Regions from separate parts of the Homo sapiens genome. Here region 2 is linked to region 1. The links come from fine-mapping of genetic effects on gene expression. Tissue or cell type: whole blood. Region 1 holds a variant in brackets; the other region holds the start of a gene. All regions are shown on one strand. Distances are from middle to middle.

What was found. PIP is the estimated chance that this variant, and not a neighbour inherited with it, causes the effect.
Region 2: it holds the start of CAPN2, and the variant in region 1 is fine-mapped to the expression of CAPN2 in whole blood (TOPMed, PIP above 0.99).

The regions. Positions count from the first base shown.
Region 1 is chr1:223,750,835-223,762,120 of GRCh38, reverse strand. It overlaps CAPN2 (calpain 2), which reads right to left. Exons shown (of 21, transcript NM_001748.5): 7 at 11,146-11,231; 8 at 10,050-10,124; 9 at 9,165-9,325; 10 at 6,472-6,641; 11 at 4,741-4,752; 12 at 2,640-2,851; 13 at 504-540. Among named protein-coding and RNA genes, the nearest start is that of CAPN2, 44 kb to the right of the region's middle. RefSeq lists an enhancer at 8,677-9,876 and a silencer at 10,580-10,874. The variant G/A (reference allele first, on the strand shown) is at 5,084.
Region 2 is chr1:223,709,253-223,717,552 of GRCh38, reverse strand. It overlaps CAPN2 (calpain 2), which reads right to left and starts at 5,014. Exons shown (of 21, transcript NM_001748.5): 1 at 4,676-5,014. The coding sequence starts at 4,912. RefSeq lists silencers at 4,548-4,667, 4,878-5,267 and enhancers at 4,377-5,328, 5,368-5,417.

The sequences.
Region 1 (11,286 bases):
CCTTCCATGGCAGCCACCTCCCACTCCCCTTCTCTACCCCTCCCTGGGGCCCAAATTCTACGGTGATTTGGGTTAAGATCAGGTATAGTGTGAAGAATTAATATAAGGTTTTTTTTTTCTAATTAAAACACAAGAAGGAATGTAAATTATGTGGGAAGGAGTAATATTCTAATTTCTCACAGAGGTATCTTCTCTAGCATCCAATTAAAATGGCCTTTTAGGATCTATTCTAGTGGGGACTCAGAAGAATAAAGACTAGCTGGAATGTTGTGGATGGATTTTGACAGTGGCTAGCACAGCCCAATAGGCAAGGGACTGGCCCATGCCCCCAGCACAGAGGCCAGAGCTGATGCAGGTAGTCGACTCTTGGATTCCCAGTACCCGGCTTTATCCTTAGTTTCAGGCTTTGTTCGTGAAGTCCAAAAACTCTTGGAGTTTTTTTGCTCCTCTGCTCTCTGGATTGTCCAGGACAGAGTGGGTGAAATTCAAAGAGTTACAAATACCTCTTCAAGATTGGCCTCGATTTCATCATCGACAGCTCTGGAAATAGAAGGAAATTATGTGTTACTGGAAGGCAGGCGAGGGCAAAAAGGAAGGAAATCACTGCTAAAATGGAAGTGCAGTGCTAAATCCAGCAGGGGGTAGGTGGGGTGGGGCAGGGCTGCGGTGGGGGGAGGTCTTTGTATTCCAAGTTTCTGTGATAACACCTCCCCTAAAAAGCAAAAATTTTTCTGCATTCCAAGTTTCTGTGATAACATTTCTCTGCATTCCAAGTTTCTGTGATAACACATCCCCTAAACAGCAAAAATAAAGGCAGAAGTGATCTGAAGGAAGGGTCATGACCAAAGCAACGTGGGCAGCTGGAGATTTTTGTTTGCTAGTTTTTGATCTTTATCAAATAGGATAGCCTTCGCGTGTAGCGTGGTGTTCGTCCTAGCCTTAAGGAATAGCTTCTAAGTTCCACTTGAAATATCCTTTGCCAACATAGACTTTCACACTGAGAATCATGCAGTGCAAATCATCGCCTACTTGTTCTGCCTCAGGTTGGAGAGGTGGGCAGTGCAGAGGCCTGTGTGTCATTTCAGCCAAAGCTCAGGTCAGGCAGTGGTTAGTTTATACTGTGCACCGCCCCTGTGTCCAGGGCCAGGTCCTTCTGCTCCATAGTGAGGGTAATCAAGCTCAGGAGGTTCTTCCTTGGGCCACTGTGATTTTAACTAAGTGACCAAGAGTCCTATCAGCAGGGCCAATGCCTGGCAGAAGGAAAAGGGGACCTCTTGGTGCTGATCATTGGAATCTGGAGCAGAAGGATTAATATTTTGGGACAAGGAAGTCAGAAACCTTTGAGAGGTGGGGTGTCCTCTTGGGGTAGGGAGCTCACCCTAGAGAGAGTTGAGGGGTTGAGGCTTCCCTGGGAGAGTGACTTGTGGCTGGCAGGGAGAGTAATGAGTTTGACAAAGGACACTGTTATTCTAATGCCACCAGGTCATGCTCCTATTTTCTTGTCAGTGAGGACTAAACTGAACACACCAGTCTTCCTCTAAGCATCCTCAGAGCTGAGAGGAAAGGTCCCTTCCCCCATGGTAGGCTTTAGCAAATGAAGACAGCCTGTCAGTGGCAGGGGGGCTACAGCCGTGCTATGGTGGCATTCATTGGTATGCAGCTGCCTGGCATTGCTTTGTCTCCCTTCGCCATGGGAAATTATTTCTGCATCATGCATTATCTTGGGGCAAGGGCAGTTCCCTGCCTCTACCTCCCATTGGCTCTTCCTCTACAGGAACCAGCAGGCCAGGTGGCTGACCCAAGCCCAGCACCTCAGACACACTCCACAAGATCTTTAGACCTCAGCACATGACCCAGAGTCCAAGGGGTCATCTCACACCCTGGTCCTCCAACACATCCTTGGCTCCTGTTCTTCCTAGCCTGACCCCCTACCTCCCATCAGTTCTGGAGTCTCCAATGGCCTTTCGATGAATTCCCTTTAGCTTAAATCACCCAGGGTAGATTCTGCCTTTGCCAATCAAGTGCCCAGCTGAACATACATGGTTGAGGCAGAAGTCAAAGTGGCAGAAGCCATTGTGAATTGAGGCCACCTGGACAGTGGCAGGAAATGGTGATGTCAGCCACAAAGGGTTCCCAAACGTGGGATCCCATGAGGAAGGGGAGAGAGAGCTGGTGACATGACAACTATAATAGGGAGAGGTTCTGGAGGTGGGAACCGTTGAGATGGTTCCCACCTTACACCCTTGGTGGCTCTGCTAGGCCAGGTGGCCTGGAAAATCAAGGATTACACCAGCACTGCTCAGCTTTCTTCAAATGACGAGACTGGATTCGTAGTTTAACATTAAAGTACCAACTTGAGAATTCAGAGACACGCTTATGAAATTAGACCCTGCAATTCACTGTACAGCCACCCCTTTCCAACCAAAAATATCCACAGTGGCTTTTTCCATTGTTTACCTTACTATAACACTAGAACTTCCTCAATCCATCAAATCCCCACACTAGTCCTTCGAGGTGGGCAGGTGTTACAGAAAAAGTAACTGACATTCAGAGGATGAAAGAGCCCTCTAGGGGCCGAGGAACAGACCAGTGGGGAGGGACAGGGAAGGGTGGGGAGAGGAAGGGACCAAACCGCCTACTGGTAGTCAGCTTTCTTTTCAGAAAAGACCCGGATGCAGAAATCCCCATCCTTGTTGGGTTCGAAGGTGGAAGGCACGAGAATGTACTCTCCTGGCGGCAGCTTGAAGCGGTTGAGCACCTCCCGGAGGTTGATGAAGGTGTCTGAGCGCTCCCTGGCGCGATTCGTCAGGAAGAAGTTTTTGCTGAGGTGGATGTTGGTCTGCCCACTTAACTGAGGAATAAATAGAGAAACATGGGGGTAGATGAGGGGAAGCCTCCAGGCAAGTATCATTTTCATTCACTGAGATAAAAGCAGTTGGGTAGTGTGGTGGCTCAGTCCTGCTGTCCTGGTGTATAAGGAGGCGAGGCCAGGCGTCAGAAACCAGCCTGGGCAACACAGGAAGCCCTCATCTATATAACGACGACAACAACAACAAAACAACAAAATTTTTTTAAAAAAATAGCAGTACAGTGACAATGCCTGGGTCATTTTAGATAAAAAGCAAACTTTTGTTAGGTGTGGTGGCTCACGCCTGTAATACCAGCACTTTGGGAGGCTGTGAGAGGATTGCTCGAGGCCAGGAGTTTGAGACCAGCCTGGGCAATGTAGTGAGACCCCTGTCTCTGCAAAAAATAAAAATATTAGCCAGGGGTGGCGGCAAGCGCCTGTAGTCTCAGCTACTCAGGAGGCTGAGGTAGGAGGCTCACGTGAGTCTGAGAGTTCAAGGACGGCAGTGAGCTATGATCACACCACTGTACTCTAGCCTGGGTGACAGAATGAGACCTTGTCTTAAAAAAAAAAAAAACAAAAAGCAAACTTTCTACCAAAAAACACAAATGCCTGCTGAGGAACTCGGAAGCACATGCCCACAGGGGTTTCACATCCATTCAGCTCCGCCTGCAGAGATGCCCAGTCTTTCCACAGTGTTCCCAGCCTTCCTCTAAGAGACTCTCAGGCAGGAACAGCGTCCACATGGCAGGAACCTGGCTCGGTTCTACGTGGTGTATGATGCACTATAAAAGCAAAGACAGGACTGGGGGCAGGAGAAAGACAACCCAGCTTCTAAACCAAGCATGATCCACCGGACCAAGGCTGGAGCAGCATCTAAAAGAGCCCGATGTGCTACCGGTTGCACTGCCTTGCTGTGAAAGAAATGTACTACAGGTGGGTCAAAGTGCCCCGTGTGTCTACTTTAATAATCGTGACCTTGGACCAGGCATCCCATCTGCTTCAGCAAGCGGTGACTGTGGGCCCAAATGCTCTCGCAAAATTTAAGTCATTCCACGGTAGTGCAGTGAGGTGGATGGTTGACCAGTTTTACTGAAAAATAAACTGAAATGCAGCCAGGCACGGTGGCTACACCTGTAATCCTAGCACTTTGGGAGGCTGAAGGGGGTGGATCACCTGAGGTCAGGAGTTCAAGACCAGCCTGGCCACCATGGTGAAACCCCGTCTCTACTAAAAATACAAAAATTGGCCTGGCATCCTGGTGCGTGCCTGTAGTCCCAGCTACTGGGGAGGCTGAAGCAGGAGAATCACTTGAACCCAGGAGGTAGAGGTTGCAGTGAGTCGAGATCATGCCACTGCACTTCATCCTGGGTGAAAGAGCGAGACAAAAAACAAACAAACAAACCAAAAATCAAAAAAAAAAAAAACAAAACCCTGAAATGCAGAGAGGAGCTGTAACGTGTCCAAGGTCACACAGCCTGGGAATTGGGTCCTGGTCTCCTCTGTGCTCCCGCGTTGTCTTCTAGTACAGTCTGCAGGGTTCACCTTTTCCCTGACTCAGTCTTCTCCTAAGAGTGACAAAGAACTTTGTGAAAAGCCTCCTGCAGTCTCAGGATCATGGATTTTCTGCCCAGAACCAAACCCTGTATGGGCTCTGCCAGGTCACAGGGAGGCAGCGGGTCCCACAAGGACTTTCCAGAAACCTTGCCCAGAGCTTAGACCAGTGGGATCTAGAGCCTGGGCAACTTCAGCAGGGCCCCAGGGGTGGCCAGGACTCATCCTTCATGACCACCAGCCCCTGCCCGGGCTTCACGACGCTCCCTGAGCTCCAGCAGTCTAAGCCTCTCGCTTTTTTGGTGACCTGAGCACCCCGGGACATGGGCCAGACGTACCTCCTCTGGAACCTGCAAAATAAAGGAGATGCAATTCAGATGCCGGAAAAGCAGTGTAAGAAAATGCATCACTGTGCTCTTCTCTTCCGCTGCCCCCGTTTTCTCTGTAGCATTAGCAATATCAACTAATTCAACCGAGTAACTGTTTTCCAAGGAACTCAAAGCCTCTCCAACACTGAAGAAAATCCTCTTATGTTGATAAGCCCTCACCTCCCTTCCTAACTTAGAGTATAAATCTCAGGCATGGAGATGTGAAGAGACTTGTCTAAGGTGGCAAAGCCCATATCGGCCTCCCACGCAGGGAAAGAGGGCCAGGCGGGCCCTGTTGGAGGAGGCAGCAGGC[G/A]AGGTGAAATACACCTGGGGCTAGGAGCCAGCAGTGCCGGCCTCTGTCAGCCAGGTCCAGTGGTCCGGTCTGCATTTCCTTGAGCAAGTCCCCTCTCCTCTCTGGCCTCAGTTTTCTTGTCTCAAAAATAGGACCCAGTGATCCCCAAGGTCCGTCCCAACTCTGAAAGCCCGTGGCTGCATTTCCAAGCCCATAAGCCGGTGGGAGGGAAGCTGTGTATCACAATTCCATTTGCATTGTCCTTGGATCGATTCTGTCCCAGATCCGAAGTCCTCAGCTCCTGTTTCAGAGACGGAGGGGTTTAGGCCTATGTGCATTTTTACAACTGATGGTATTTGCCCAGCTGCCTTTCTCAGGTGGGTGAGCAGGTAGAAGTCAGTGTTCCATGGGTGGCAACGTTGCCAGTGGTGAGCACAGAGCCTCCTCTCCTGACACCTCGTCTGGATTCTCCCAGGGGTGTGCTGGGAAACTGGCTCTTGGGAGAGGGTGGAAGCTCTGATTTGTACTATTTGCCACTTTCCATGGTGTAAACAGGTCCCTGCCAGGGCCATTTTTCAGGCTGCTGAAGGACCTCAGCAGACATGGGTCAGAGAAAAGAGATGGGCTTTGGGAGCCGGGAGGAGCCAGCTCCAGCCCATCAAACCGAAATGCATCCCCAGTCAGTGCCCTAAAGCCTTCCTTTCATCCCTCTCCTCGCATGGCTACCTGCAGCCCACGAAAGCTCTTTCTTGTTTTGCAGAAGGGAGTGGGGAGAGCCCAGGGGCCCAGCGTGTTGGGTGAGTTCTCAGTGCCCCAGCCCCAGCCTGAGGGCGGAGAGGAGACTGCAATGCGGCTGCCCTCTGGCTGTGGCTCAGAGTGAAAGGAAAACACGCATACAGCAGGAGTCTGTGTAGGGATCTGGGCTCCAGCCATCAGAGCCCTGGGGGGAGCATCATGACCAATGTTCCCCTGTCCCCAAGCTCTCCACCATCCAGGCCAATGACTTTGCCGAGCTCTGAGCAGCTGCACCCATGGACTCAGTCCTGCCCTCACAGTATTGCCTGATGTGGCCCAGTATATTCTGTTCTTTGAAGATGGGTAGGCTGACCAGAATGCCAGGCCTGGAGGATGTGAGAAGGGATGTGGAGGCCATTTGAGAGTGGAACTCCCTGCAGGCTGGCTGTGGGGGGCCCGTGAAGGGCTTAGAAGGCCCCACAACCCAGAGCCACTGCAGGGGCCTCCCTACGGGGGCTACTCCTGAGCCTGGCCAGGCTGGTAGTTTTGTTTTTCCTTGGCCAAGCTCCCGGTCTGGGATCCCATCCCCAGTTCTGCCTCTGGGGTCAGCTTTCCATGCAGGGGCTGAGATGAACACATGGGGAAGGGAGGGCAGGAGCCCCTGCGCTCTGCACCTCATAGATGCCAAAGCCGATGGTGTGCATGTCCTCGCCCATCTTCCTCTGCCGCCGTCGGTGCTTCTGAATGAGCCCCACCAGGAAGGTGCAGCCGCTCTCCCCATCCTCCTCGTCCTCATCCTCCTCCTCCAGCTTGATCAGGTACTGAGGGTTCATCCAGAATGTGTCTGCAGCCAGAAAGGGGCAGAGGAGCCCAGCCCTGAGCAGGAATGCATGGGGGTGGGGGGTGGCCCTGGTCTCAGGCTTGGAGGCTTCTGAGAGGGATGGAGATAAAGGGAGATGGTGGGAGGTGGTGGGAGATGGTAAGAGGTGGTGGGGGATGGTGGGAGATGGCAGAGTATGGCAGAAGATGGTGGGAGACAGCGGGAGATGTCAGAAAATGGCGGGAGATGGTGGGAGTTGGCAAGAGGCGGTGGGAGGCTGTGGGAGACAGTGGGAGATGGTGGGAGATGGCAGAGGATGGCAGAAGATGGTCAGAGACGGCAGGCGATGTTGGGAGAGGCTAGGAGGTGGGAGACACCAGGGTTGGAGTGTGGACTGCAGGCTTTGTTAGGCTGGAGACGGGTGACGGTAGCTGTGGAGAGAGGATGACCTGCACTTGTCTGAATCTAACAGGAACCTAAATTAGAAACTTTCTCTTGCAGTTCTCTCTCTGGCTCCAGGCTGGCTTGTCTTGGGGACTGGTCTGTCACTCTGGAACGCAGGGTGGTTAGAGCTGTGGCTTCCCCTCATGGTACCTTCTCTTCACTGGGCTCTGATGGGGAGCCTGGGGCGGGGCTCGGCTGGCCTGGGGGACTCCGGGATCTGCTCCCTGCACTTGCCGGTCGCCGCCCCCTCGGTGAGCCCGGAGGCCAAGAACATCCTGTGTATAATTCCAGACTCTTTCTTGTTCTGCGTCCCTTGTCCTCTCAGGCCTATTCCCTTGCCCTGCTCCTGATGTCTCTGCCCTCTTTACTTCCAAAACCTATTTATTTAAAAAATCTAAGATTCATTCATGTTTAAGGGGAATTATGCTAATTGCCTTTCCATACCTAATGGGATAAAACCCTAACTGTGAAATTACAGGCACCATCTTGTGTAGGGGTTGGCAGCTATGGCTCCGAAGGCCGCTGCCTGTTTTTGTAAATAACGTTTTATTGGAACGTAGCCACGGCCATTCGCTTAAGTATGGCTGCCTTTGGGTTATAGCAATAGAGTTGTTGTTATAGAGACTGAGTGGCCCACAAAGCCAAAATTATTTACTATCTGACCCTTTAGAGGGAGTTTTCCGACTCCTGATCTAGTGGGTAGGAGGGGTCCCTTGTGGGGGGCAGAGGGCCTTCCCAGCGCCTCTGGGACTGCCACTTGGTGGCTGCATACTTGAGGTGAAGGAGTCCGAGCCCCAGAACTGTAGGCCAGCTAGCCGCAGTCTGACTACTTGCTCTGTGGCCCTGGTATGCGACTTAGAGGCTCAGCTTCCTCATCTGTCACAGAGAATCACTATGTGACCATGATCTGCTGCCACTGTACTTACACAGTGACTCCTCAGTCAGGGGGCCTGGGTTCAAATCCCAGCACGCTCTGTGGCCTTCAGCAAGTCACTAGCCTCTCCAAGCCTCAGTTTCCTCATCTTAGAGATGGAGGTGATAAGAAAGTGCCTGCCTCAGAAGTTTGTTGGGAAGGTTAGATAGAATGTTATGCAGGCTGAATATCCCTTATCTGAAATTCCTGGGGCCAGAAGTGTTTCCTATTTTGGATTTTTTTGGATTTTGGAATATTTGTATATACATAACATATCTTAGGGATGGAACTCAAGTCTAATGACAAAACTCATTTCTGTTTCATATATAATTTATACACATAGGCTGAAGGTAATTCTATAGCATATTTAAAATAATTTTGTGCATGAAACAAAGTTTTGACTGTGTTTTGACTGCGACCTGTCACCTGAGGTCAAGTGTCGAATTTTCCACCTGTGGTATCATGTTGGGGCTGAAAAAGTTTTGGATTTTGGAGCATTTCAGATTTCACATTTTCAGATTATGGATCCTCACCCTGTGTACAAAACACTTAGGATAGTTCCAAGCACTGAAGGTGTGCCCCATAATTGGCAGATGTCATCATGTTCAGACAACTGCTGACGGACTAAGCCATGAAGGCAGAAGAATCAAGGGGCTCAACAAAGGCTGGACCAGAGGAGAAATCTTCACCCCATCTGGGCAGCGCCCAGTCAACATTTGCTGATTGAAGTGAGTATGGGGCAACAAACAGGGCCTGATATGTGGAGGGCTCCCTGGGTGCCGGGACAAGGTTCCCTTGTAGGCTCGGCTGCCTGGGTGTGGGGTGCATAGAGCAGCTCATGGCCGTGAAGTGGGATTGAGCACTGCTTCCGTGAGCATGGCGGAAGGTCAGGCTGAAGGTCATGATGGGCGCTGGGGAATCTAGGGCCTGGAGAGGACATCACAGAAACAGTGGCTCTTGGGTTTGTCCTGGGTAGGGCAGGAGGTAAGGGATTGAGAAAGAGAGCTCGGGGAGAAAAGGCTCAGGGAAAAGAAAAGGCTCAGGGAGAAAGAAGACAGAGAGGGTTCCAGTGAGCAGGAGCTGCCTCCTGGGGCTGCTAGGCTGGGGTGTGGTACACAGGGTGGGGTAAGGGGAGCTTTGGCCTTTGGTGGCCCCGCATTGCAACAGCCCTTATATGCAACAGCCCTTACTCGGGTAGTTCCTGCAACCTCCCGCGGTGGAGCCCCGCCTCCAGTTCCCATCCATTTTGGTGAGTTTCCACTTCTTGTAGGTATCGCTGGTGAGAGTGTCTGGGGTCAGGTTACAGATCTCCAGGCGGGAATAGTGCCTCAGGAAGTCACTGAAAGACATCCTGGCAAAAGCAGAGACAATCATCACAGGTGATAAGAAGACACACTGGTAAGCCTTGACTTTCCACCAACACCAGACCAGGAGCCACCCAAAGCCAGGCAGAGCAGCTCATTAGAACTGAGTGGATGGGCACCAGGTTCAGAATCAGAAGGCCCAGATTCCAGTCCTGGCGCTGCAACTTTCTAGCTGGGTGACTTTGAGCAGGTTACTTAAACTTCTCTGAAGCTCAGAACTCTCACCTGCAAAAATGGGAGCCGTGCCCATCAAATGTGACAATATATGGGCCCCATTTGATAAAGAGCATGTTGTGTCCAGGTGCAGGTGGTTATAGAGTGGCGCAGACACACAGACATGTGGGTCCATTGCTGCTCACTAAGGGACCAGTTTCTTAAGGGGCTGGGATGAGTCTCCGGAACCTGGGGGAGAAAGGCCCCATCTTTCCCTTGTTTCCTGGGATCTGAACATTACCAAAGGAATTCCTCTTAGCCTTTTTCTGAAGCTGCTCAGCTTATAAACCCCATTGTCAAGATGGACCGTTGAAGGGGCTTAAGAATTTCTTTATTCAGGCTCTTATAGTGAACTTAAAATAACAAAACCAGGATCCCACACGCTTGTGTCCTCGACATGGTAAACTCACTTTGGCCGACACTCTTTCTAATTAGCAGTTTTCTAGTAAAGAACATTGGGGCAGACAGAGCTTTCCCTGAAGCCTCCACTAATCTTACCAGAATTCTCCATCTTCATGCCGTCTGGTCAGCCTTTCCCTCTCCTCTGGGTCTATAGTGTTCCAGCTTGGGCAGCTGGAAAACAAAGTAAAGAGAGAGGCGTTAGTGTACGATGATTTCTCCCCAAAGGCCCCAGAGTTGAGGAAGAGGGACATCTGCTCTCACCTCTGAGGGCTCAGGCTCCAGAAAGGGGGAAAGTAGCCCACATCTGGCTAACAGCTGCATTTTAATACTCTTACAGCACTTTAAAGAGTATAGAACACTATACAGATGCAAACCAGGGAGCAAAGTGAGCGGGTGAGTTGTGCTGGAAGACAGTGGCAAGGAAGAGTCCAGAAAATGAACATAGTTCATTAGAGGGAGATGGAGTAGCTCAGAGCAGTTGCCCAATTGAGATGGGCCTGGCAGCTCTTTTAGAGACAACTGAAGATCTGATGAGGAGCCTCCGGCTGAGGCCTGGGAAGCCTCAGCAGGTGTCTCTCTGTCCACGGAGCAGAAGGACCTGGCCCTGTACACAGGGGCAGTGCACAGGGTAAACTAACCACTGCCTGAGCTTTGGCTGGAATTACACACAGGCCTCTGTACTGCCCACCTCTCCAACCTGAGGCAGAGCAAGTAGGCTGAGGTTGCCACAGCAGATGTACAAACAAGTGTTTACCCCAAATAGTTGAGGGTTCAACATGCCTACCAGTAAGCCCTGGAAATCAACAGAGGGATGTTTCTCTGGCCTTTGGTACAAAGTTCACATCCCTGTAATAGAAGTGCCTGGGGGAAGGTGGGGTGTATTTTTTTCCCTGAAAGCCCCATAGAAGGGTGGATTTGAGCTAGGGAAGGGGTGAACCTGGAGGCAGTGGCAGGAATGAACTTCACACGAGCAGCTTGGGGCCTGGAAGAAGGCACTCAGGCTGCTGGAGGAGTGTCCTGGTTAAAAGACCCTTTGAGGGGCCCCTGTCCACGGGTCCCTGTCCACGTGGCCTGGGCTCTCCTGGCTATATTTCTCAGAATAATGCACATGTCTTCTTCTCTCGCCCTCTTCCCAGAGCCTCCCAGCACAATGCACCCCCGCCTGGGGCCCCGAGGCCTGCGCCCTCCTCACTTGTCATTCCACCGCCCTGTCCACTCCACTTCTCCCCAGGGATTTCGGATGCGGATCAGTTTCTGTAGGCTTCCGTTACTTTCAACCTGCAGGATTAGATAAAAGGGAGGAGTAAGAGGTTGAGTTCAAGTCAGGGCTATG
Region 2 (8,300 bases), 43 kb after region 1:
GAGAAGGGCAGGCATTGGACCCTGCACACTCTGGACTGCCTGGAGCCTCCTTCATTGTGCTGTGTCCCGGGGGCCACAGCAGCAAGTCCAGCCTTTTCTGCCAGACGTGGAGACCATCCACACTCTAGAGCCACCCTATCCACTGGGTTAGCATCCTCTCTCCTCTGTTACTGCATGCAAGTTGTTTTGCTTGCATGAAATTCCTTCCTTTCCCACTCTCTTCCCTCCTTTTCCATATTGCATCATACCTTGAGGCTCATTGTCACCTCCTCCGTGAAGTCGTCCTAGTCCAATCCTCACTCATCCCTTCAAGTCTGAGTCCCAGAGTCTCTGGACTCTGCAATTTACTACTTAGGTATTACTCTGATTTCCTAACACATACCCTTTTGAGGGCAGGCGGGATCTAACCCTTTTGAATTCTTCCATGGGACCATGAAACTTACAGCATCTATATATTCTGTACCTGCTTACATCAGAGACTGTGCTCAAAGCTTTACCTCATGGAATGGGTATTATCCCCCTTTTACAGACGAGGAAACAGCTCAAAAAGGTGAAGTGACGTGTCCAAAGTTAACACAGTTCACAGATAATAGACAGCACTGGCATTGGAACTTACTGATCAAATGCGCCAACTCTTTCTGCTCCTGCCCTGCCTCTAATTGATTTAGTACCAAGCGTTCAAGGGTGTTAAAACCTCAGGGGCCATTGTCATGAGCAGCCTGATGGAAGCCAACCTTGAACACTTCTTAGCCCTTTCAGCAGCCCTCTGAGTGTGTTTCGATTCTGAAGAGCCCCACCCAAAAGCCACAGAGGAAGTTGGGGCACAAATTTGAGCCTCTCTGGGCTCAGGCAACCTTGCCTTGAAGGAGCTGCGTCTCATGTCTGCTTGGGTTGCACACGCCTGCCTCCACCCAACGGCCCTCGGCATGCCCACTCTGTCAAGCAGAAGTATGCCTATATGAGACTTGGATCTAGCCCCTGTTCATTCTAGCTCAGATTGTGGGAGCTCTTCCGGAAGCACCATCTGCCGCAGAGGACATTCCCTTCATGCCTCTGCCTTGTTTCTCTCTGCTCCTGTCAGTTTTGGGGATGGCAGAGAGAATCAGAATGCTCTTCTGCTGAGGCAAAGGAAGCCAGCTTGGCCCAAGGCCTGCCAGAGAGCTCTTATCCAGCTGATGGAATAGATTGGGCTTGGTGCTGGGAGCCTGTTTATTATAAAGAATCACACTGATAATCCTGAGTGTGCCAGGCACTTACTCCAGCAGGGTTTTTCCATTATACTTCAGAAACTTTCTAATGCCTTTAGCAGCCTCTCTAGAAAAGTCAGAGTTCAGAGTGGTGCTAAACACCTAAGCATCTAAGCGATGCTTCAGAAAACTGAAACTTGTGCACGGCATGTAGGGCATCGAATTAAATATGGGTCTTACCAGTCAGTGAAAAGGGGCTGAGGGTTTGGGCTTTGCTGCATTATTCTGATAACCTAGGTTTGAATCCTGGCTCTGCCACTTATTATGTAGGTCGTAGGACCCTGGGAAGTCACTTAACCTTTTGAAGTCTCAGTTTTTTCACCTGCAAAATGGGAACGATGAAAACACCCACCACAGAGGATTGTTCTGAGTGTTAAATGAGATAATGATGTAAACATGCCCTGGCAAGCACTCCATAAATGTGATCTATTATTATTACTGTTGAAGAAGTTGATGATAACAGTCACTGAACTTGGAGACAGGACATATGGGTTTGAGGCTGAGTTCGGCCAGCTGAAGATAAGCAAGTGAGAAACCTCTCAGAGGTTTGATTTTCTTGGGGGAAACATAGGGGCTCACAACATCTGCCCTTGCTCCTAACAGACTGGTTGCTGGAAGGATCTGATGTGCCACCCGGATCACACCTGCTTTCTCCTCACTGTACCCCTGCATGGCCCTTGGACCCCACTGGACTTACTGCTTTAATCCCCGCTCCAGGCACTGGAGCCACTCTTGCCAGTGTTGTGAAATCCTCTCTCCGAGGAAGAGCAGCTCCTCCTGCTGCAAGGCTAACCTGCTCCCCTCCCCTGCCCACAACCCGTATTCTCACTTCCTCAGGGATCCTGTTTCACTGCCCCCTCCCTGCCTTTATCTTTAATCCCTTCTTCCTGGTGATTCAACATATGACACATTCAAGTTGTTCTCATATGAAAAAAACACAGGCTCTCAAAGTCCAGGTCCTACTCTACCTATCAGTTCTCCTCTCTTCCCGGGGGTCCTTCTTAAATAAGTTGATCATGTTCTTAATTTCCAGTTCCTTTACTCTGGAGTCTACAACAATCTGGCTTCTACTCTCACCTTTCCATTGAAATTGCTCTGCTAAACTCACCAATGACTTGCTAGTGTTCAAATCCAGCGGAAACAACTGTGCTCCCCTTGCCTGACCTCAGCAGCATTTGAGAAGGTAGGAAGGAGGCAGAGAGCGCAGCCATAAGGGGTAGGCTCAACATGCACAGACTACACACAGTCCTGGATCTATGCCCTATATCCACTTGACTCTGAGCAAGTATTTAACCTTCCCAAGCCTCAATTTCTTCAACTGGCAAATGGGGATCGTAAAAGTCACACTCTTCCTTAGTTGTGCAGTGCACAGCCCGCCTGCCCTAAGCAGTGGCGCTAGATCATCTCTAGACCTCTACATCCTCATCTGGAAGTCCCACAGGCATTTCCAACTGTTGGGGGACCTGTCTCTGTCCCCTCACTAGCCTCAGAAGTAAGTCTTCAGAAGCAGAAACCATATGCATTGTGCCCAGCATATAGTAGGTATTCGAGAAATGCTTACTGAATGAATGAAAGAATAAGTGAATGAGTATGTGAACTCACTATGTAAACTGTAAAGTGCCATGCAAATGTAAAGTGAACACATTCTCTTGGTTTGTGTTTCACTTTTTTTTTTTTTTTTTTTACTTTTTTATAGAGACAAGTCTTACTGTGTTGCCCAGGCTGGTCTTGAACTCCTGGCTCAAGCGATCCTCCCACCTTGGCCTCCCATAGTGCTGGGATTACAGGTGTGAGGCACTGAGTCAGGTCAGCGTATCACTTTCACAACCATAATTTCATTTGAGGCACATTACAATCCTGCATCCATATTCTACAAACAGTCACTTCTTTTGTGTTCACTGGTGTATCTCCTGAGCTCTCAGGACAGTGCCTGGCATGTAACAGGTGCTCAATCAGTGTTGTCAAATGAGTGAGTAAATGAATGAATGAATGAATGAATGAATACTGTGAAAGGCATGGTTATGTGTCAGGCACTGGGGATATACTGGTAAATAATATACACATGATTCCTGCAGTTCAGTAGGAAGAACAAATACATGTGATTATATTCTAAACTGTGACAATGCTATGAAGGAAATGAGTGGGGTGACAGAGAAAAACAAGGTGGGGAGGTGGCTGCTAAGAAGGGTCAGAAAAGACCTCTTTAGGAAGGGAACATGTGACTAAGTTGGGAAGAATGAGAGTGAGCCACACTCCAGGTAACAGCGTGCCTTGCTGGTGAGAAGGCCTCATGCAGGAAAGAACCGGCTCTTTGAGAGACTGAAAGGAGGCCATGACGGCAGGGCCTAGTGGGCCACAAAAGAGAGAAAATATTTAGGCAGCATGTTTTCTTTTAGATGAAGACATGGAGGCACAGAGAGGTTAAATGGCTCGTTCAAGGTCACCAGCAGGTTAGCAAGAAGAAGAACCCAAGTGCTCTGAGTCTGGGCTAGGGCGCTTCCTGCAGCCCTTGCTACCTATGGGCTGGATTTAGGGTAACAGAAGGTGACCTGGGAGGCTGCTGGGTGTGGAAGCAGAGCTGGAAGCCTTGTTCTCACAACAGGAATCTAGAAGTTGGACTTCAGGGCAGGCTTTCCTAGGCGTGGTAGGGGAAGCCTGGGGAAGTGTCCCAAAGGAGGAGGAGCCTCAGGGGTTCCCCAAGAAACAGAATGGACAAGTAGATTGGGGAGCACAAGTTGTCCCAGGGCCGGGAGGTCAGAGACCCTGGGGGACGGGATAAGGGGGTCTGGAGGGCTCCCGGAGGTTTCCCGGGTGATTCCCGCCAGGGAAACCATGAGACACCTCCGTGTCCTGGGTTAATTACCAGTGTCAATGTTATGAGGAGGTATCGCTGGCTCCCCTTTGGAAAAATAAATCTAACCCCAGGGCTGCAGGAGACTATCCTTAGTCACAAAATGACCAGGCTATGGCCTGTCCCCCTCCATGAACAGACAGAACCCCAGTTGGAGACGGACTTTGTCTGGTAGATGCTGCCTCTCACCGTCCCTTCCCTGCAGACCCGATTCCCCTTCCCTTCCAGCTCCCCGCTAGAGTCCAATCAAAGTTTCACCCCGGCCTCCTGCATCACCCTGAGTTTTTGTGAAGTCCTAAAGTGGCCTGCTAGTGGGATCTGAGGGCAGTGATTCGCCTCGACCCGCCCAGGAAAGCGTGGTGGGTGGAAGAGAGGGAAGGCCCCGGGAGTCCCCCCACGCTCGAACAGAGTCCCGGGCTCTGGCGGCGCGGAGGTGTCGCAGGACTGCGAGGTCCTGGCTTGCGGCTTCCCCACTGCAGCACCCGGGCTGCCCCCCGCCCCAGCGCGCCGCGGGCCGGCCTGCACCCCGCCCTGCCCGGCACCCCGCCCTGCCCGCGTCCTGCCGCGCGCTTCCTACCGTGGGGCGCTTCCACTCGATGCCCCGGGTTTTGCTGGAGTAGGGCCCCAACTCCTTGAAGCCCAGGGCCGAGGGGATGGCCGGGAAGGACGGGTCCTGGAAGAGCGTCCCGGCCTCCAGGCACTCGTTCCGCAGCGCCTCGTAGTCCTGGTTGAGGTACTTGATGGCCCTGTCGTGGGAGCCCAGCCCCTCGGCCGCCTCCCGGTCCTTCGCCAGCTTGGCCGCGATGCCCGCCATGCTGCGGTCCCGGCGGCCGTACTGCGCAGAGAAAGGTCGGGGCGACTCCGCGCTGCGCTCGGCTGGGGCGCGGCCAGGGCCCGGCGCGCTGCTGCGGCCACTGCGGGCGCCGCCGCTGCGAGCGATGATTCACCGGAGGGAAGCGGCCCGGCCCGCGGGGTGTGGCCTCAGCCGCTCCCGGCCTGCTGGGCTCCCGGCCCGGGACCAGGCCATCCTGCGGCCTGCCGAGCGCCGGGAACGCCGCGACCCGGGGCCGGTGCTGCCATCTGCGGACAGCTCCCGGGATGGCGCGGCCCGGCGCCGGGGAGGCTCGCGAATCGCGGTCCAGAGTTGGGGCTCCCACCGGAACCCGAGGCCACCTTTGCAGCCCATAGGGAAGAAGGCTAGGATAGTTGTGGCCGTCCGGAAAACACCCGGGGAGTTAGCAGAGGGTCAGGTAGTGAAGTCGAGGAAACTAAACCAGCTGCCCTGAACTTTGTGCCAAACAGCGTCTTAACGGCTCTGCATACATCATCTCATTTAATCCTCCCAGCGACTCTGAAGAAGGCGCTGATATTGTCCCCATTTTACAGATGAGAAAACTGAGCCTCGGAGACGCTAAATGACGTCCCCAATGTGGCACAACAGTCACAGGCAGAACAGGGACTCTAAGCCACCGGAGGCCTATTGCAATCACAATGCTGCAATTACTACTGCTCAGCTGTTTATTTGATTATAGATAGGGTTGTCAGATTTGGCCAATAAGGCTGGGTGCGGTAGTTCACACCTGTAATCCCAACACTTTGGGAGGCCGGAGGCAGGCGGATCACCTGGGGTCAGGAGTTCGAGACCAGCCTGGTCAACATGGTGAAATTCCGTCTCTACTAAAAATACGTCGTGGCAGGCACCTGTGATCTCAGTTACTCGGGAGGCTGAGACAGGAGAAACGCTTGAACCCAGGAGGGAGAAGTTGCAGTGAGACGAGATCGCGCCACTGCGCTCCAGCCTGGGTGACAAAGCGAAACTCCATATCAAAAATAAAATAAAATAAAATGATTTGGCCAATAAAACAACAACCCTCCCAAATGTTTAATTTGAATTTCAGATAAACAACAGATACTTTTAAAGTATATGTAGGGCCCAAATATTGCATGGGCATACATACTTATTCTAAAAGAAAATATGATTCATTGTTTACCTGAAACTCATATTTAACTGGCAGGATTAGTTGGGTTACTATAGGGAGAGAGCATTTAGAATACTGCCTGTGTTGGCTACTGTGACCACTCTGTTGTGGAGCTAGGGTGTGATTCTCATCTCACACACAGAGACATGGGTGCGTGCCAAGAAATGCAGATGGGCAGAAATTACCTCCTCTTCTTCTCTACAGTAGTAGGGAAGAATTTGGGTTTCACTGGAAAACTGTGCATGGTCTACAGCAGTGGTTCTCAACTGGGGGCAGTTTTGTCCCCTACCCACCCCAGGAGACATTTGGGAATGTCTGGAGATAGTTTTTATGGTCACAGCTAGGAGATGAGGTGCTACTGGCCTTTACTAAGTAGAAGCCAGGGATGCCGCTGAACATCTTCCAATGTCCAAGATAGCTCTTGTGAACCCAGAAAATCTGAAACAGGTCTCATTTAATTTAGAAAGTTTCTTTTGCCATGGTTGAAGATGCACACCTGTGACACAGGAAGTCCTGAGGACATGTGCCCGAGGTGGTTGGGGTGCAGCTTGGTTTTATACATGTTAGGGAGGCAAGAGCCATCAGTCAAGTACATTTAAGAAATACATTGGTTTGGTTCAGAAAGGCGGGACAACTCAAAGTGGCGGGGGGTGGTGGGTGGGTAGTGGGGGTGGCTTCCAGGATATAGGTAAATATTTAAACATTTTCTGGTTGACAATTGGTTGAGTTTGTCTAAAGGCCCAGGATCAATAGAAAGGAATGTTTGGGTTGCGATAAGAGGTTGTGGAGACAAAAGTTTTATCACATAGATGAAGCTTTTAGCTAGCAGGCTTCAGAGTGAACAGGCAGTAAAATGTTTCTTATCAGACCTAAACTCTGGTTGATGTTCACGCTGGAGAGGTATAATGAAGCATGTCCGACCTTGCCTTTCCTTCATGGCCTGAAAATTTCAGGTTAAAATTTTAAGAGCCTCGGCTAAGGAGGAACCATCCATTTAGATGGTTGGCGGGGGTAGGGGAGGGGGAGGCTTAGAATTTTATTTTTGGTTTACATTCTCCACCCAAAACATGATCTAGTCCAAGACATCAGTCATGTAGAGGCTGAGAAACCCTGGTTTAGAGCATCTCCTTCCAGAAGATCTGGGTCTAGCCTTTCATTGTTTTTGTTGTTGTTGTTGTTGTTTTTGTTTTTCTTGAGATGTAGCACCCTGTCACCCAGGCTGGAGTGCAGTGACAGGATCTTGACGATCTCAGCTAACTGCATCTTCTGCCTCCCGGGTTCCAGCGATTCTCCTGCCTCAGCCTCCAACGTAGCTGGGATTACAGGTGCACACCACCACATCTGGCTAATTTTCTATATTTTTTGTAGAGATGGGGTTTCACCGTGTTGGCCAGGCTGGTCTCGAATTCCTGACCTCAGGTGATCCGCCTGCCTCAGCTTCCCAAAGTGTTGGGATTACAGGTGTGAGCCACCACACGAGCCCCTTTCATTGTTTTTGAGTTATTTTATAACTCTAAGTTGTATATAACTGTAGCAATGTATAGTTACCTAAGTAACTCTAAGTAAGTAATCTAAGTTGTAGATAACTGTAGCAATGGAAAATAATTTTTCCTATAGATATGCAAATGCATTCTGTCCAGTAGAGGCACTACAGTCCCCCTGTAGAGAGACCAGTTTTTTGTCTAGTTGCATATTCCATTTCAGTACTCTTCACGTCATGTAAATTGTGCTGCTTTGGTTTCTCCTTTGAACCAGTTATAACATCCACCAGATTGCCTCGTTTAATCAAGTTAAATGGACTCTTTTTTTTTTTTGAGATGGAGTTTCACTCTTGTTGGCCCAGGCTGGAGTGCAATGGCACAATTTCGGCTCACCACAACCTCCACCTCCCAGGTTCAAGTGATTCTCCTATCTCAGCCTCCCGAGTAGTTGGGATTACAGGTGCCTGCCACCATGCCTGGCTAATTTTGTATTTTTAGTAGGGACAGGGTTTCTCCACGTTGGCTAGGCTGGTCTCGAACTCCTGACCTCAGGTGATCTGCCCACCTCTGCCTCCCAAAGTGCTGGGATTACAGGTGTGAGCCACTGCACCCTGCCGAAATGGAATCTTTAAAATGTGTTTATTTTATACTAATATGAGAGCCATGATGTTACCTTTTCTTAAAGCAAGTATTTTTGTCACTATTATTCCTCTGCCCCCATCTATTCTTGTCTCTGACACCC